Regions from separate parts of the Homo sapiens genome. Here region 1 is linked to region 2. A link means that fine-mapping ties the variant in region 2 to the expression of a gene that starts in the linked region. Tissue or cell type: lymphoblastoid cells. Region 2 holds a variant in brackets; the other region holds the start of a gene. All regions are shown on one strand. Distances are between the middles of the regions.

Region 1 (8,107 bases), 510 kb before region 2:
CCTCTGCCTCCCAGGTTTAAGCTAGTCTCCTGCCTCAGCCTCCTGAGTAGCTGGGATTACTGGTGCCTGCCACCATCCTTGGCTAATTTCTGTATTTTTAGTAGAGAGAGGGTTTCACCAAGTTGGCCAGGCTGGTCTCGAACTGCTGTCCTCATTTGATCTGCCCGCCTCAGCCTCCCAAAGGGCTGGGATTACAGGTGTGAGCCACCATGCCTGGCCTAAATCCTGTTAGTTTTGAATGGAAATTTTCTTTCTTTCTTTTTTTTTTTTCTGGGACAGATTCTTGCTTCGAGACAATGACAAATACAAACTAGGTTTACTGTAAATATGAGAAAGGGAAAAAATACTTTTATTGTATTAGAAGACTTGAAATCACATGAAGTGATACCAATCTTTTGTTGTTGTTGGTCAGATGTTTTAGCTATTTTAGGTGTTTGGGTTTTTTGTCTTTCTACATAACTGCTAACCTTGTTAGTATCTGCAGAATGCCTTAATTAGGAAAGGTATTAACCCTATGTGTCAGATTTGTATAATTCATATTGCTTTACATGGAGTCTTCCAATAAATGTATATGGTATATGTCTCTATTTGCTGTCTTTGATTTCTTTTATCAGCATTTGGTAGTTGTAACATAACAGTTCTATGAATGTTTTGTTTCACATGTATTTCTTTGCCCCCCCCCTTTTTTTTTTTTTTTTTTTGAGACGGAGTCTTGCTCTGTCGCCCAGGCTGGAGTGCAGTGGCGCGATCTCAGCTCACTGCAAGCTCCGCCTCCTGAGTTCACGCCATTCTCCTGCCTCGGCCTCCCCAGTAGCTGGGACTACAGGCACCCGCCACCACACCTGGCTAATTTTTTTGTATTTTCTTAGTAGAGATGGGGTTTCACCGTGTTAGCCAGGATAGTCTCGATCTCCTGACCTCGTAGTCCACCTGCCTTGGCCTCCCAAAGTGCTGGGATTACAGGTGTAAGCCACTGCACCCGGCCTCTTTGACCTTTTTCTTAATGGAGCAATCATACATAGTATTTTATTTTTAATATCAGGTTTCATGTGCAAATTGCTAGTGTATAGAAATATACAAGATTATTATTATTATTATTTTGAGACAGGGCCTTACTCTGTCATCCTGGCTGGAGTGCAGTGGAGCAATCTCAGCTACTGCAACCTGTGTCCTGCAGGCTTAAGTCATCCTCCCACCTCAGCTTCCCCAGTAGCTGGCACTGCAGGCATGTGCCACCATGGCCTGTTAAATTTTTGTGTTTTGTAGAGATGGGGTTTCACCATGTTACCCAGCCTGGTCTCAAACTCCTGAGCTTGAGTGATCTGCCTGCCTTGGCCTCCCAAAGTGCTGGGATTACAGGCACGAGCCACCATGCCTGGCTGATGAAATATACGATATTTTTGTAGGTTGACCTTATACTTTGCTACCTTTACATTTTTCTTGTTCTAGAGATTTTTGTAGATTTTTTTGGAATTTTCTACATAAAATCATTTCATCAGTTTCCTATTGCTATACACAGTGATTGGCTTAAAACAAGAAAAATTTATTCTTTTATAATTCTGTAAGTCACATATCTAATATGGGTCCATAGTTCTGTGATTCTTCATTAATCTCCAGGGGAGAATTTGTTTCCTTACCCTTTGTAGGTTCCAGAGGCCACTTACATCCTTTGACTCATGGTCCACTTCCTCCATCTTTAAAGGTGAGAAAAAAAATCTCTTTATCCCTCTATTTTCAACACATCACCACTGTCTCTGTCCCTTCGCATCCACCTGCACCCTTCTGATATTGAACCTTGTGATTCTATCACTTTGACCATATAATTCAGGATGTCTATCTAAAGATCCTTATCTAGACCACATTTGCAAACTCCCTTTTGATATATCCAGTAACACAGGTCATAGGGATGTAGCTACCTTCCTTTGGGAAAGGTATTAGCCTGCACAACCAACATATTTTCTGTTGGTACACTATTTTTTTTGTCCTGTCCTCAGGCCACCCTCCTTCCTCAGCCTCCCAAAGCACTGTGATTACAGGCCTCAGACACCACACCCAGCCTGTCACTTTTATTTCTTTTTCCTTTATTTCACTGGCTGGAACCTTTCATATTGTGTGGAATAGTAGTGATAAGAGGGGACATTCTTGCCCTCATCCCAACCTCTAGGGGAAACTATGCTTTCACCAGTTTGTATGATGATTCTGATTCTGTAAGGATTGGTAGGTGATCTTGAGTTGAGGAAGTTTCCCATGATACTGCTTTCCATACTGACCGCAGTATTTCAGATTCCCACAAAATGTACGAAAATAGTTTCTCCACATCCTTGCTTGTGAAGCAGGTTCACTGCACACTGGTTGCCAATGTGTCTGAGTTGAGTGAGAGATAATCTCACGGACACACAGTAAGTTACATGAAGTGAATTTGTTACATACAGATCGGCAGATACCTGGGATTCATGCATTCTGCTCCCCAAGGCTCAGGAAAACCACCCAGTGCAGATGCAGTCTCTCTGTATGTGTTCAACTTGCATCACAGCTGTGGGAGGCTGGAAGGCGGCCCATCCTGGGTTTCATGCTCCAGGGATGCATGGCACGTTGGCCTAAAGCAACAAAGGGGATCCTGTTCTGGGGATCTGGAACACATCCTGTCCTTTTCTCACCGGTCCCTTCCTCTCAGGATGTTGCTTTTCCAGCACATTCTATATTCATTCTTGGGAACTACAAGTGAGAAGTCAGATGCAACTGGGCCAATTCAACCCCACTTGAATGCTGTCCTGCAGTCTCTCCGCCAATCCAGATATCCCTTTTATTTTTATATTTTTTGAGACGGAGTCTCGCTCTGTCTCCCAGGCTGGAGTGCAGTGGCGCAATCTTGGCTTACTGCACCTCCACCTCCCAGATTCAAGCAATTCTTGTGTCTCAGCCTCTCGAGTAGCTGGGACTACAGGCGTGTGCCACCATGCCTGGCTAATTTTTTTTTTTTTTTTTTTTGTATTTTTAGTAGAGACTTCGTTTCACCATGTTAACCAGGCTGGTCTCTAATTCCCGACCTCAGGTGATCTGCCCTCCTCGGCCTCCCAAAGTATTGGGATTACAGGCGTGAGCCACCACGCCTGGCCCAGATATCCCCTTTAATAAAGCTAGTCCATTTACATGTGCACTGACCTCCCTGGATCTGGAGGTAGAGGCTGGTCTCAGGAGATTGAAGTAATACCTCGACTGGCAGAATCTCAGGGCAACATCATTGAGGTACAGCCAGTTGCATTTCACTAGGCTCAAGAGGATTGCTGCCTCAAGCAGGATAACCAGGCCTGCCTGGAGCAGTGCCGTAGTCCAGGATCCCAGTGACCTAGGTGAGAAGTTGGTACTCAGATCAAAGAAAAGTTCTTCAGGTGACCCCACTGTCTGCAGCCAATGGGCCTGCTTGTGGGCCTTATGTATTTGTGTTTCAAAAATAACCTGAGGGCTTGATGTGGGGGTCCTTATCTCCCATGCAAGGTGATTCATGCCTATAATCCGAGCACTTTGGTAGGAGCAGATGGGAAGACTGCTTGAGGCTAGAAGCTGGAGACCAGCCTGGGCAACAAAACCAGACTACATCTCTATTAAAAACAAAGCAACAAACAGTAGAAAATTAGCACAGTGGAGAGGCACAGGCCTTTACTCACAGCTACTCGGCAGGCTGAGACAGGGGGTCACCTGCCCAGGACCCCAGGAAGTCAAGGTTGCAGTGAGCTATGATTGCGCCACTGCATTTCAGCCTCGGTGGCAGAGACCCTGTCTTAAAATTTTAAAAAGTATTAAAAAACTAAGTTGGACCGGGCGTGGTGGCTACTCTGGAGGCTGGGGCAAGAGAATCACTTGAACCCAGGAGGCGGAGGTTACAGTGAGCTGAGTGCCTGCCACTGTACTCCCGCCTGGGGGACAGAGGGAGACGCTGTCTCAAAACAACAACAACAACAAAAAACTACGTCGTTTATGGCTATTTTTATAAGTTACTGGCTTTTTTTTTTTAAAGAATCGGTGACTTATCTTCACACTGGCCTTAGTCCTCCATGCCCAACACGATGTCCCTAGGAAAGTCTCTGGAATTGAGCACAGGGTTGACCTTCACCGTCTAGAGTGAATGGGGAAGATAAATGAAAAGTATTTATCTTCTATGGGCACTGGCATGAAATAGAACATTCTACCCTGGCAGGGTTTTGCATTTCACATTTTAGCTTGCATCATCCCCTTCACAGACAATTCCAAAGTGTGTTAATTCAATTCCTAAAGCTTCCCTTCCCTTCCTCCCTTCCCTTCCCTCCTTACTTTTCTTTCTTGTCCATTTATTTTCGGTTTTTTTCTCTTTCTTTCTTGGTTTTCTTTCTCTTTTTCAACTTCTCTTTCTTTTCTCTTTCTCTTTACTCTCTCTCTTCTCTCTCTTTCTGCTTCCAGGGTAGGTGGGACTTGAAATTCATTTTAATAGAAGGAATTTTCGTGGATATAATCTACAACCGATTTTGCTCTGCGCAGGTAAGATCCGTTTTCAGACCAAAACCCTGAAAACAAGCGCAGCCAGTCAAGCGAACGGAAGCGCAGGCCCGGCCCAGGCTTTGTCCCGGCCCGCCCTGGTCCCAGCCAGTCCGGCCTCTAGGATGCGCGCGCAATTTCGTGCAAACCCGGAAGCGGACCGCGGGGGGCGAACGCCTAGAGCGCAGTTTCCGGTAGACCCGGAAGCCGATTGCAGGGAGAAACTGTTTTCGCAGCAGTGCGTGAGTTTCCCTTTGTCTATGTTAAGTCTAGGCTAGCCAGTTCTTCTCTGCTTCTATACCCGGGAGCTGAGGGGCATGCAGACCTTGAAATCCCGGCACCGCTCCCTCCACCCCGAGTAAATTCAGACATCCTTTGAGAGTCTGGGAGTCGCTTTCTGCGTGTTAAAATCGCTTGGAGGCTGGTCGTGTGCCCGGTCTTTTTGTCATTTACCCACGTAGACACCTCCTATCGTGGGGTTTACCTGCTTCAAATCCTTTAGTAACCCCTACACACGCCCCGCACCACGTAAAATCCTCACTCTCCGTTCCCCTAGCCTCGCCCTTCTTTGCCCCTAGAGCTCAGCGCCCCAACAGGGCACGAGAGGCCTCGTCCTCTGCCCAGACCTGGTTTCTGCAGACTCCACCCCTCTCCTGACCCACTCCTGCCTTTTTGCTCCTTAATCTGGACCCTCTGTTCCCCAGGCCTCCCTTTTCCAGCCACCGGTTCTCCTGACCCCGAGTGTGGGGGGTGACTTCAGTCTCCTGACATCCAGTGTTCTCTCGAGCCAGTTTCCAGCCCACAGAAAATGAGCTCTTCCGGAAGTGGGCATCTTATTCCAATCCCCTCCCTGTGAATGTGTGGAGAAAAAGAGATGGGAACGAGGCAGAGGAAATAGAGAAATTTTGAAAGAGAAATGAAGAATGAGAGACCCATTAACAGAAGGCAAAGTAGAAGGTGAGTGAGGGGTTTGCAGAGGCACAGTGAAAGAAGGTGCCGAGAAAATAGCAGGGGAGAAAAGTAACTGTAAAAATATAGACAAACCTGGGTCTGTAGAAAGACGAAATTCAACAAGATAGGGAAGGCTTCTCAGACAGAGGGGGGAGAGGAGGAGGGATTTGGAGCCAGGTCAGACAGAGCAGCGTGGTGCTGGGACAGCCAGAGGGGGCAGCTGGTCACAAGGAGAACAGGGAGAACCACAGCAGGGGGAGGCCTGGGATCTAAGGGTGCCAGAGAGTGGGGACAGGGGTGTGTAATATCGAAGATGGAATTTAACAGGGAGACCCCAAGGGGAGCTGAGATGTGGGAGGAAAGAGGCAGAAATATATGGAGATTAGGGACAATGAAAGATTGGGCAGAAAGAGGAATAAGAGGTGAAACAAGTTGTAAAAATGGATCAGAACAGGTGGGAGAGAAGGAATAGAGGGAAGAATGGGACAAAGAGAAGAGGAGGGACTCAAAATGAACAGAATCCTAGGGGAAAATAGAGAAAAAAAGAGCTAGGAAAAAAGATGAGAATGAGAGATATGTACAGAATGAGGCAGGGAAACAGTAGTGAGGAAAGAGGGGGACCCTGGTTACAGATGAGTGGTGAGTTGATTGGAAATTATGATTGAATTGTGACATATTAATTTTTCTATAATATAAAATTTGTTTAGAACACATGAGGCTAGGAGCTGTGGCTCACACGTGTAATCCCAGTACTTTGGGAAGCTGAGGTGAGCGGATCACTTGAGGTCAGGAGTTGAGACCAGCCTGGCCAACATGTGAAACCCATCTCTAGTAAAAATACAAAAATTAGCTGGGCCTGATGGCCTGCGCCTGTAATCCCAGCTACTCTGGAGGCTGAGGCAGGAGAATCGCTTAATCCTGGGAGGCAGAGGTTGCAGTGAGCCGAGATCGTGTCACTGCACTCCAGGTTAGGTGACAGAGCAAGACTCCATCTCAAAAAACAAAAAACAAAAAACCACACATGAAGATGAGAATTGGAACACTATTTATAAGGCACTCTTCTCTTTTCTTGGGATGGACTAGGGTGTGAGTGTATAAGTTAGGAAAAACCAGTGTGTTTTTGTGTTCACAGTGAACACAATAAAGAGCGCTCAACACAGAATGCCTCATCTCTGGTCACCAAAGTAATATGGGAATTACTTGTCACCAACAAGCAGTTCTTCGTCAGACAGCACCTGGGTGTTCTGTAATTTTACTCAGTTTAACTGGTCAGTGTAGGAACAACCACAGACACATTTTGATCACTAAAGGTGAGGGATTCTCCTTTGGGTGTGAGAGTAGTAAAAACAGTGTGGTTTTTTCCTGTCTCAAACAGTAAGGGGAAGAATTTTCCAACAGGCCCACTCACCTGTCTCTAGGACTGTGTTCTTAGTAGTGACTGGGAATTGTCTGTCCCTGCTCCTGGCTGCTGCTGATGCTGAGACTGTGTGCCACAGGCCAGCCCCATTCACTCTCTCCTGATGCCACGGCATCCCTCCTCCACAGTGTCATCAGATTTTACTTCAAGGGAATTATTTTGGTCAGCATACCCAGATGGAGTTGTTGCCCATTAAAACACACACACACACACACACACACACACACACACACACGCCTTTATTTTTTCCACTATTTCATCCTCAGAAGAAAAAACAAAGTATTAGCTACATTTTTACTTGCAATAAGTATGCCTTTTCTGTGCTCCATGTAAGAGCACAATATACCAAAATCTTGTTTAGGCGCTCTCTCACTCTTTCCTCCATTTCTTGCTTGACCCCATCCAATCAGGTTTTGACACCAACCATTCCACTGCTCCTTTTTTTATCTGAGTCACCAGTGACTTCTCTGTTTCTAAATCTAGTTATTTATTTATTCATTTAATTTTTAGAGACAAGGTCTTGCTCTGTCACCCAAGCTGGCATGCAGTGGCACAGTCATAGTTCACCATAACCTCAAACCCCTAGACTCCAGCAATCCTCCCGTCTTAGCCTCCAGAGTAGATAGGACTATGGGCCTGTCCCTCTGCGTGGCTGATTGAAAAAAAAATTTTTTTTTTTGAGACAAAGTCTCACTACATTGCCCAGGCTGGTCTTGAACTCCTGACTTCTAGCCATCCTCCTACAAAGAAGTCCCAGCATGCTGGGATTAGAGGCATGAGCCCTTTACCCTGCTTAAATCTGACTTTGAATTTTCTGTCCTCCTGTCTTTTTCTGTCAGCAGCATGTTTCACAGCTGATCACTCTTTTTTTTCGCAGCTTTGAAGACATTGCTTGTATTTTTAAAAATCTGTTTAAAATTTTTCTCATTACTTTCGTATCTTATCAGTTTCCTCTGCTGCTGTCTCCTGAAGTGTCTTCTCTGAATATGGAAATGTCACCCAATTTAGTCCTTAAACCTGTTCTGTCTGCCCACACCCTCAGCTTTTCCTTTTGATCTCATCTATGGTTTTAAACACCACCAACATGTCTCCATTTTCCCTCTTCACCCACCCCTCTCCCCTGAATTCCAAAATCCTGTGTCCAGTCATGTTCTCGACATCTCTGCTGGGACATCCACAGGCATCTCCACCTCCACGTGTCCAAAATAGGCTTCCTGAACTCCCCCAGAC
Region 2 (8,107 bases):
TTGCCGGGCAAGAACAGTCAAGGCTTGACCGGTTTTATTAGTAATAATTTTTAAAACAGCTTGCAACTGTATGATTCGGTTGAGCATGTAGATGGGGGTTCGATAACCTCATGAGCTGTCTTGTGTCTAAGTGGCAGGCTTACAGTATTATATAATTCTTTAGGAGGTCATTTATCATCTTTCTAATTACCTATGGCTATGCTTCGTTTTTCACAGGAAGCATAGACTGGGAAGCCTAGAAGTTCACCTGTATTTATGGGCAGTAAGAGGAAAGATGGCTTACTGGTGCCAATTACACAGCTACCTGTCCACTGATCAGGCAGCTTAGCATGAGCTCTGTCTATGTATCTGGTATAACCTGGTGGGGGCCGTCTAGTCCTGGTGGAATTCCGGGTGGGCCTCAACAGTCTGCAACTTTGGAAATTTACTGAATGGATTTCTTTTTGTGTAACTGGAACTTTAGTATGTAACTGTTTTTGTGGTACTATTATACAACTTTTGCCTAAGACAACTAAGCCGCCTTACAGGATGATGAGTGAATTTTTTTCTTTCTCTAGCTATGCAATACCGTCTAATAATTGAGACTTTTAGAACTTAAAAATTGTCAGGGTGGTTCTTTTGGGCTGGGAATTCATCAGGAACTGGGTTTGTAGGAACTAATTCTCGGGCTTCCTATGGCCATTGATCTCTTGTTACAGTTCTTCTACAAACATAACATGAGGTGACTTGTAGAGACTGGGCCTCATGTTAGGCTAATTGCAAAAACAAATTTTTAGTTTTTCCTGGAATCTTAGGTACTGGCACATTTATTTCATCATAGAAAGCCTGAAATACTGGTTCTGGAGAGCATTTTTCAACTTCTTTTTTTATTAGGATGTTTACGCTAGGATCTAGTTTTTTTTCATCAATGCTTAATTTACATTTTTTTTTTAATTGTACTTTGGGTCTGATGGGTTTGTGATTATCAATTTTAAAAGGCTGCAGCCCCCACTCATGCAAGAGGGGCTGACTTTTCTTTTTTGGAGCTAAACAGGATTATTTTTATCTTCTTTTTAAGTAGCCCAAATGACATAAGACTAGTATTGACACATCTCACATAAATATGATTCTTGACAGATATACTTATTTTTTTTTTTAACTGTGTAACTTTTTTTCTAATTTAGAGAACTGCATCTTATTCTATGCTGCTTACTATCAATAGTGGCACAAGCATCAAATTTTAAGGTTATATTTTTGGGGACCCCTCTTCTGTTCTAGCTATTATTTTACTTGTGTCACTTAGAAAAAGACTAGTCTTTAATTTTATTTTAAAAACTGTAATCATGGGAGGCTTAAAATGGGTTATAACACACATCAGGTTGGTTATTCCTTGGGCTACATACTTTGGATAGAATAGCATTATACAAACAAATTTCTTTTAGAATCCTGGTACACTTATAATAACTATAAAATAATAGGACTGTAGCAATCTTTTGTCTAACTTCAGTGACTTGATGTAGATACTGGAAACAGTTCTTTGTCTGAGGAAGGTCAGTTGAAGTCCTTACTGTACAAGTCTAAATTTTAAGGAAAATGAGTCCTGCGATGAGTTTCTTCCTGCTTCAGTCGTGCGTGGACCAGTCAGCTTCCGGGTGTGACTGCAGCAGGGCTTGTCATCTTCTTCAGAGTCACTTTGCAGGGGTTGGCGAAGCTGCTCTTATCTACGTACAGCTCCTAGTCTACTGATGTTTAAGGGTGGTCTCAGAGGTTGGGCCCACTAGAATAAACTGAGTCCAGCACCTCTAAACAGTTATGTTTAACTGGGCTCTTTGATACTAGGAGTAAGGTGGCGGGGTTAGGGTGTTGCAAACTTCAATGGTTATGTGGGGATTTTCACAGAGCAAGCTTTGGTATCTAGTTAGTCTAGCGTTTATTAGCTAATGATGTCTTTTGTTATTTATTAAAGGGACTTTATGTTTATGTTTTGCCTAAGAGTTAGCTTATCTGCTTCTTGTGCTAACAGGGCCATTGCTGCCAGGGCCCTTGGACATGGGGGCCAGCCTTGGGAAACCTCGTCTAGTTGTTTTGAGAGTCAGGCTACTGGCCTTGGCCAGGGCCTTACAGTCTGGGTTAAAACTTCAACTGCCATTTTTTTTTTTCTTTCTGACACATAGAGTGCAAAGAGTTTTGTCAGGTCAGGTAGCCTCAGGGCTGGGGCTGACATGAGTTTTTCTTTTTTTTTTTTCTGGTTGATGAAATACCAGGGTGAAATGGACTAAACCATAAGTGCCACTCTAGTTATTCGGCAGAGTGCCTACTAAAGGTCTACTACAATACCACCACACATCTGCTCAGAGATGAACAAGGGCTGACCGATTGATAAGCTCTTGAAAATTCTTAAGCTCACTGCATCCTTTCAGGTCTCCAAGGAATGCTAAATCTCCTCTCTGCCGTGAGATACAAGAAGTGAACTTAGTATTGGGAGACGGAAGCTGGAAGGCCCTCGGGGGCTGATCCGCAGGGACTTCGGGATATAGCAGAGAGAGCTATATGTTACTCCAGGCTGTAGAATCCTGGAAAAGAGCTACCATGCAGCCCACACCTGGTCAACTACAGGACCACCTTAGTGGAAGGGGGACAATCAGGGCCTCTGGCCTGCCATGTGCACAAGCATAACAATTGCTTTTGTTTAATGTGCAGATGGAATATTTGATCTATTTCAACCAGGCATTTGCATCTTGGTATGCTGTCTCAATTGCCAAAGTTTGTTTTAAGTCTTTAACTTCTATCATCCTCTAGTAAAATGAATGCTTCCTTTAGCACCGATTTTTATTAGTTTTTAGACCAAAGAAAGCTGAACACCATTTTATATTTAATAATGCTTCTTGTATGATTTTTATACCAGATAAGCTAAATTTTACTTTTATATTAGTGTGTTACTAATGTTAAATTTAATTTTAATGAAACTTTGTAGACATATTTATCTAATTTTTCATGTTTGACCATAAGGTTAGATTTTGTAGACTCTTTTTAACTTTTTGTAATTTTTGTTAAAGAGCAGGTTGATGCTTTAAGAAAAAACCTGTTGCATTTTTACTTTGATGTCCGTTTCACAGAAAAACTGGATGATACCTTTTTAACTTTAGCTAATATGTTTACACACAGAATTTTCTTTACAATTAATGTTTTAAAACTTGCTTAAACTTTCAAACAATAATTTTTTTAACTTTTTAATATAGGTAAAAATCCACATTCTTATGCCTCCTTATAATCTTTTTACTATAGGTATATTTTACTTTTCTTATACACCTTGTACATAAACTGTTTCTTCAATAATAGGAGGCCTTATTACTTTTAAATTATACATTTTTTGCATAAAAAA[A/T]TTTTTTAAAGCAAACTTTATGTCTTTGGACTAGACTGTCTAAGGCTACCAGATTAGAAGTTACTATAATACATGCTACGCTGTTAACTTTTAGCAAACTTCACTTTTGTTGAAAACCTTGTAAGTTTGGGACTTCAATTATCCTTTGCTATTAATAAGACCTTGTTTAGTCTAAATTAACTTAGAATTGGTATAGATGGCCTCTTTTTCTCTCTGCTGGTCTTTTCTTGCCTCTGCCAGCCACTTATGCTGCTGTTCTTTTAACTACTGTGGGGGGCGGGGGGAGGAGGTCTAAAACCAGGTGTAACTGTCTGTGTACTGAAACTGGTCTGGGTGCCTTGGCTTACAGGTTACCTTGTGCCATATCTTTGAAACTAGGGACCCATCCAGGCTTCCTTCTGATGGCTAACCTACCTCAAATGCTGGCCAGTCTATTTCACACAAAGTTCTAAGTTTTCCTGGGGTCACAGTTACACCATAATCTCCTTTAAATTCTTTCTTGAAATTCTTTAACATATTTCTTAGTGGGGTGGGCTTACTTTGTGCCTGAACTATGTTTTTTTTTTCTTCTGAGACAAAATGCCATGCTCACACCACACATACTCACCACAAGAATGGGTAAAGAGGGCACACACACGCACTTTTACCGTTTATACCAAACCAAAATCATGAAATTCAAAATCTGAGTACTAAAAAATTCAAGCCAAGTCAAAACCAAAACTAAAGTATCTAACAATTCAAATCAAGTCAAAACCAGAACAAAAGTGCCAATGCAGGCATGCTGTGGGTGATCAGGCCACGCTTCCACTCAGATGGAGTGGGGCAAGTTCCAAAGACTAGTCTTACTAAGTAAAGCCAAGTCAAAACCAGGACAAAAGTGCCAATACAGGCATGCTGTGGGTGATCAGGCCACGCTTCCACTCAGGTGGAGTGGGGCAAGTTCCAAAGATTAGTCTTACCAAGTTTCAGATGTCTGGACTCCAAGTGCCAGTTCCTTCCTGGTGTTCAGCCACTGCGTTAATCCTCCGTGGGGGCCTGCTATGCACCGCTCTGGCGAGGCATTCCATTGGGGCAATTTCCTACCCAGGAGCGCTCTTTGGATCGTGTCACTCAGGCTGGCCAGAGTCCCCCGCGGGGATGCTCCACAGGGCAGGCCTAAGCCACCTAAAGGGCTGCCTCGGCCATCCATCAGTTACCTCATTTTCAGGTCAGGGAACCAAGAAAAGTAGCAGGATGAGCCTCAGACAAAACCTCTCAGACACTGAGTTGCAGAAGGAAGGGCTTTATTCAGCTGGGAGCATCGGCAAGCTACTGCCTTAAAATCTGAGCTCCCCTAATGCACAATTTCTGTCCTTTTTAAGGGCTCACAACACTAAGGATTTCACATGAAACGGTCGTGATTGATTTGAGCAAGCAGTGGGTATGTGACAGGGGCTGCATGCACCGGTGTTCAGAGTGGAAAAGAACAGAGCAGGGAGTTTCACAATGTTCTTCTATACAATGTCTGGAATCTATGAATAACATCAGTTTCTAAGTTATGAGTTGATTTTTAACTACTGGGTTTAGGCCAGGCAGGCCCAGGCCTGGTTTCAGGCCTGGCGCCGGGCTGCCTGTCTTTGATTTCACTTCCTTGTTTTTTTCCTAAAACAGGTACTGAGTATAAAACAATATAAAACAATATGAGAGGGTCTCTCTCTTCCCTCAAAACTACTAAATAAATTCAGTGGATTTGCACAATACAATATCGGCACCAAAAATTACTTGAATTTCCACACATTAACAATAAACAATTTTAAAAGAAAATTTAAAAACACTTCCATTTGCTAGAGAACTTAAAGTAAGAAATACTTAGGAATAAACGTACAAAGCTGAGAAGTTTGTACCTTGAAATCTATAAATGTTGATCAAAATGATTAAAAACATACATAGAGATACAACCCATATTGATAGTTTGGAAAAATTAATATTGTTAAGTAATTATATAACCCAATGTGATTTAGATTCAACACGGTACCCATAAAAATGCCTATCAGTTGACATTCCACCACAAAAGAAGTGAAATTGGCTGGTCCCTGCCTTAACTGATGACATTACCTTGTGAAATTCCTTCTCCTGGCTCATCCTGGCTCAAAAACTCCCCCACTGAGCACCTTGTGACCCCCACCTCTGCCAGCCAGAGAACAACCCCCTTTGATTGTAACTTTCCACTACCTACCCAAATCCTATAAAACGGCCCCACCCCATCTCCCTTCCCTGACTCTCTTTTCGGACTCAGCTTGCCTGCACCCAGGTGATTAAAAAAAAAAAAAATCTGTATCTGTTTTTGTTAAAGAAACAAAAAACAGGCTGGGAAAAGTGGCTCACGCCTGTTGGCCACACTAGTCTCAAACTCCTGACCTCAAGAGATCCACCCACCTTGGCCTCCCACAGTGCTAGCATTACAGGTGTGAGCCACCGCACTCAGCCTAATCCTCTTAACATAAACACTTTAATGTCAATTAATGCTTGAACTCAACGTTAAGTCAACTCAAACTCAAGTCAATGCTGAACTGACTCTAGTGTCAATTAATGCTTGATGGTTTGCTATACTCATTGCATTCGGAACTATTATCTCAAAAATAAATTTTCTGATATTCTGCAAGGAGTGATCTCAGACTGAAGACCTTGCCACACTGATGACATTTGTAAGATTTCTGTCCAGTATGGATTCTTTGATGTCTAATGAGGTGTGAACGTGAAGTAAAGGCTTTGCTCACAATCATCACACTTGTGAGGTTTCTCTCCTGTATGAATTCTCCTGTTTTGCATAGGATGAAGCTTGACTGAAGACCTTGCCTCAATCATGACATTTGTAAGGTTTCTCTCCAGTATGAGTTCACCCATGAACTACAGCGTATGAACGATGTCTGAAAAATTTGCCACATTTACTACACTTGTAAGATCTCTATTCATTATGGATTCTTCAATGATTTGCAATGGTTGTAGCGTTACTGAAGACTTGGTGACAATCATTACATTAGTCAAGTTTCCCTACACCATGGATTGCCTGATGGTGAATAAGTGTTGACTGTGCACGAAAGGCTTTGCCACACTCACTACACTTGAAAGGTTTCTCTCCAGTATGAATTCTAGTATGTTGTGCCAGGTGTGAGTAACACTTGAAAGCCTTGTCACAAACCTTACATTTGTATGGTTTCTCTCCAGTGTGAACTCTCTGATGTTGTGCAAGGTATGAATCACGCCCAAAAGCCTTGTCGCAAACCCTACATTTGTATGGTTTCTCTCCAGTATGAACTCTCCTATGTATTTCAAGGTGTGATTTGATATTGAAAACTTTGTCACATTCTTCACATTTGTAAGGTTTCTCTCCAGTATGAAGTCTATGATGACATGCAAGTTGTGACTGTGTCCTAAAAACCTTGCCACATTCATTACACTTGTAAGGTTTCTCTCCAGTATGAAGTCTATGATGATATGCAAGGCTTGATTTGTGATTAAAACTTTTGCCACATTCATTACACTTGTAACGTTTCTCTCCAGTATGAATGACCTTATGCATTACAAGAGATGAATTTTGAACGAAGGTCTTGCCACACTCATTACACTTGTAAGGTTTCTCTCCAGTGTGAATTACAGTATGTTGTGCCAGGTGTGAATCACGTCTGAAAGCCTTGTCACAAACCTTACATTTGTATGGTTTCTCACCAGTGTGAATTCTCCTATGTCTTTCAAGGTGTGATTTGCGACTGAAAACTTTGTCACATTCTTTACATTTGTAAGGTTTCTCTCCAGTATGAAGTCTATGATGACGTGCAAGGTTTGATTGTTGATTGAAAACCTTGCCACATTCATTACACTTGTAAGGTTTCTCTCCAGTATGAATTGTCTTGTGAACTAAGAGGGCTGAATTTTCACCAAACGTTTTGCCACACTCATTACACTTGTAAGGTTTCTCTCTAGTGTGAATTACAATATGCTGTGCCAGGTGTGAATCATGTCTGAAAGCCTTGTCACAAACCTTACATTTGTATGGTTTCTCACCAGTGTGAATTCTCCTATGTCTTTCAAGGTATGATTTGCGACTGAAAACTTTGTCACATTCTTTACATTGGTAAGGTTTCTCTCCAGTATGAACTCTATGATGACGTGCAAGGTTTGATTGTTGATTAAAAACCTTGCCACATTCATTACACTTGTAAGGTTTCTCTCCAGTATGAATTGTCTTGTGAACTAAGAGGGCTGACTTGTCACTGAACGTCTTGCCACACTCATTACACTTGTAAGGTTTTTCTCCAGTATGACGTCTATAATGACGTGCAAGGTATGCTTTTTTATTAAAAACCTTGCCACATTTATTACACATGTAAGGTTTCTCACCAGTGTGACATCTACGATGGTGTGCAAGGTATCGCTTCTGATTAAAGTCTTTGCCACATACATCACATTTATATTGTTTCTCTCCTAGATGAATTATCTGATGTTTTTTAAAGAGTGAGCTACAATTAAAGGATTTGCCACTCTCATTAAATTGGAAAGATTTTTCTTTCCTGTGTACATCCTGTTTCTGTGTGAGTAATGAAGAATGGAAGAAATTATTCCCATAGTTATTAGAAATATGGGTTTTGGGCCTACAAGAAATTCTTTGGGATGTTGAAACTGAGGAAGCATTGTTGATAGACTTCTCAAGTTGATTACCAATTTTCCCTTCGGGCTGAAATATGTGCAGTTCAGGCAGATGTGAATGAA

What was found. PIP is the estimated chance that this variant, and not a neighbour inherited with it, causes the effect.
Region 1: ZNF528 starts here. The variant in region 2 is fine-mapped to the expression of ZNF528 in lymphoblastoid cells (GTEx, PIP 0.97).

Annotation. Positions count from the first base shown.
Region 1 is chr19:52,393,154-52,401,260 of GRCh38, forward strand. It overlaps ZNF528 (zinc finger protein 528), which reads left to right and starts at 4,696. Exons shown (of 7, transcript NM_032423.3): 1 at 4,696-4,751; 2 at 5,214-5,466. ZNF528-AS1 (ZNF528 antisense RNA 1) reads right to left here and starts at 4,604. Exons shown (of 7, transcript NR_125345.1): 1 at 4,309-4,604; 2 at 4,042-4,114; 3 at 3,457-3,599; 4 at 3,212-3,346; 5 at 2,445-2,597; 6 at 1,638-1,694. It also overlaps a transcript of ZNF880 not described here. RefSeq lists an enhancer at 4,008-5,207.
Region 2 is chr19:52,899,788-52,907,894 of GRCh38, forward strand. ZNF888 (zinc finger protein 888) reads right to left here. Exons shown (of 5, transcript NM_001393938.1): 5 at 4,628-8,107. The coding sequence ends at 6,378. It also overlaps a transcript of ZNF320 not described here. Among named protein-coding and RNA genes, the nearest start is that of ZNF320, 6.2 kb to the left of the region's middle. The variant A/T (reference allele first, on the strand shown) is at 3,362.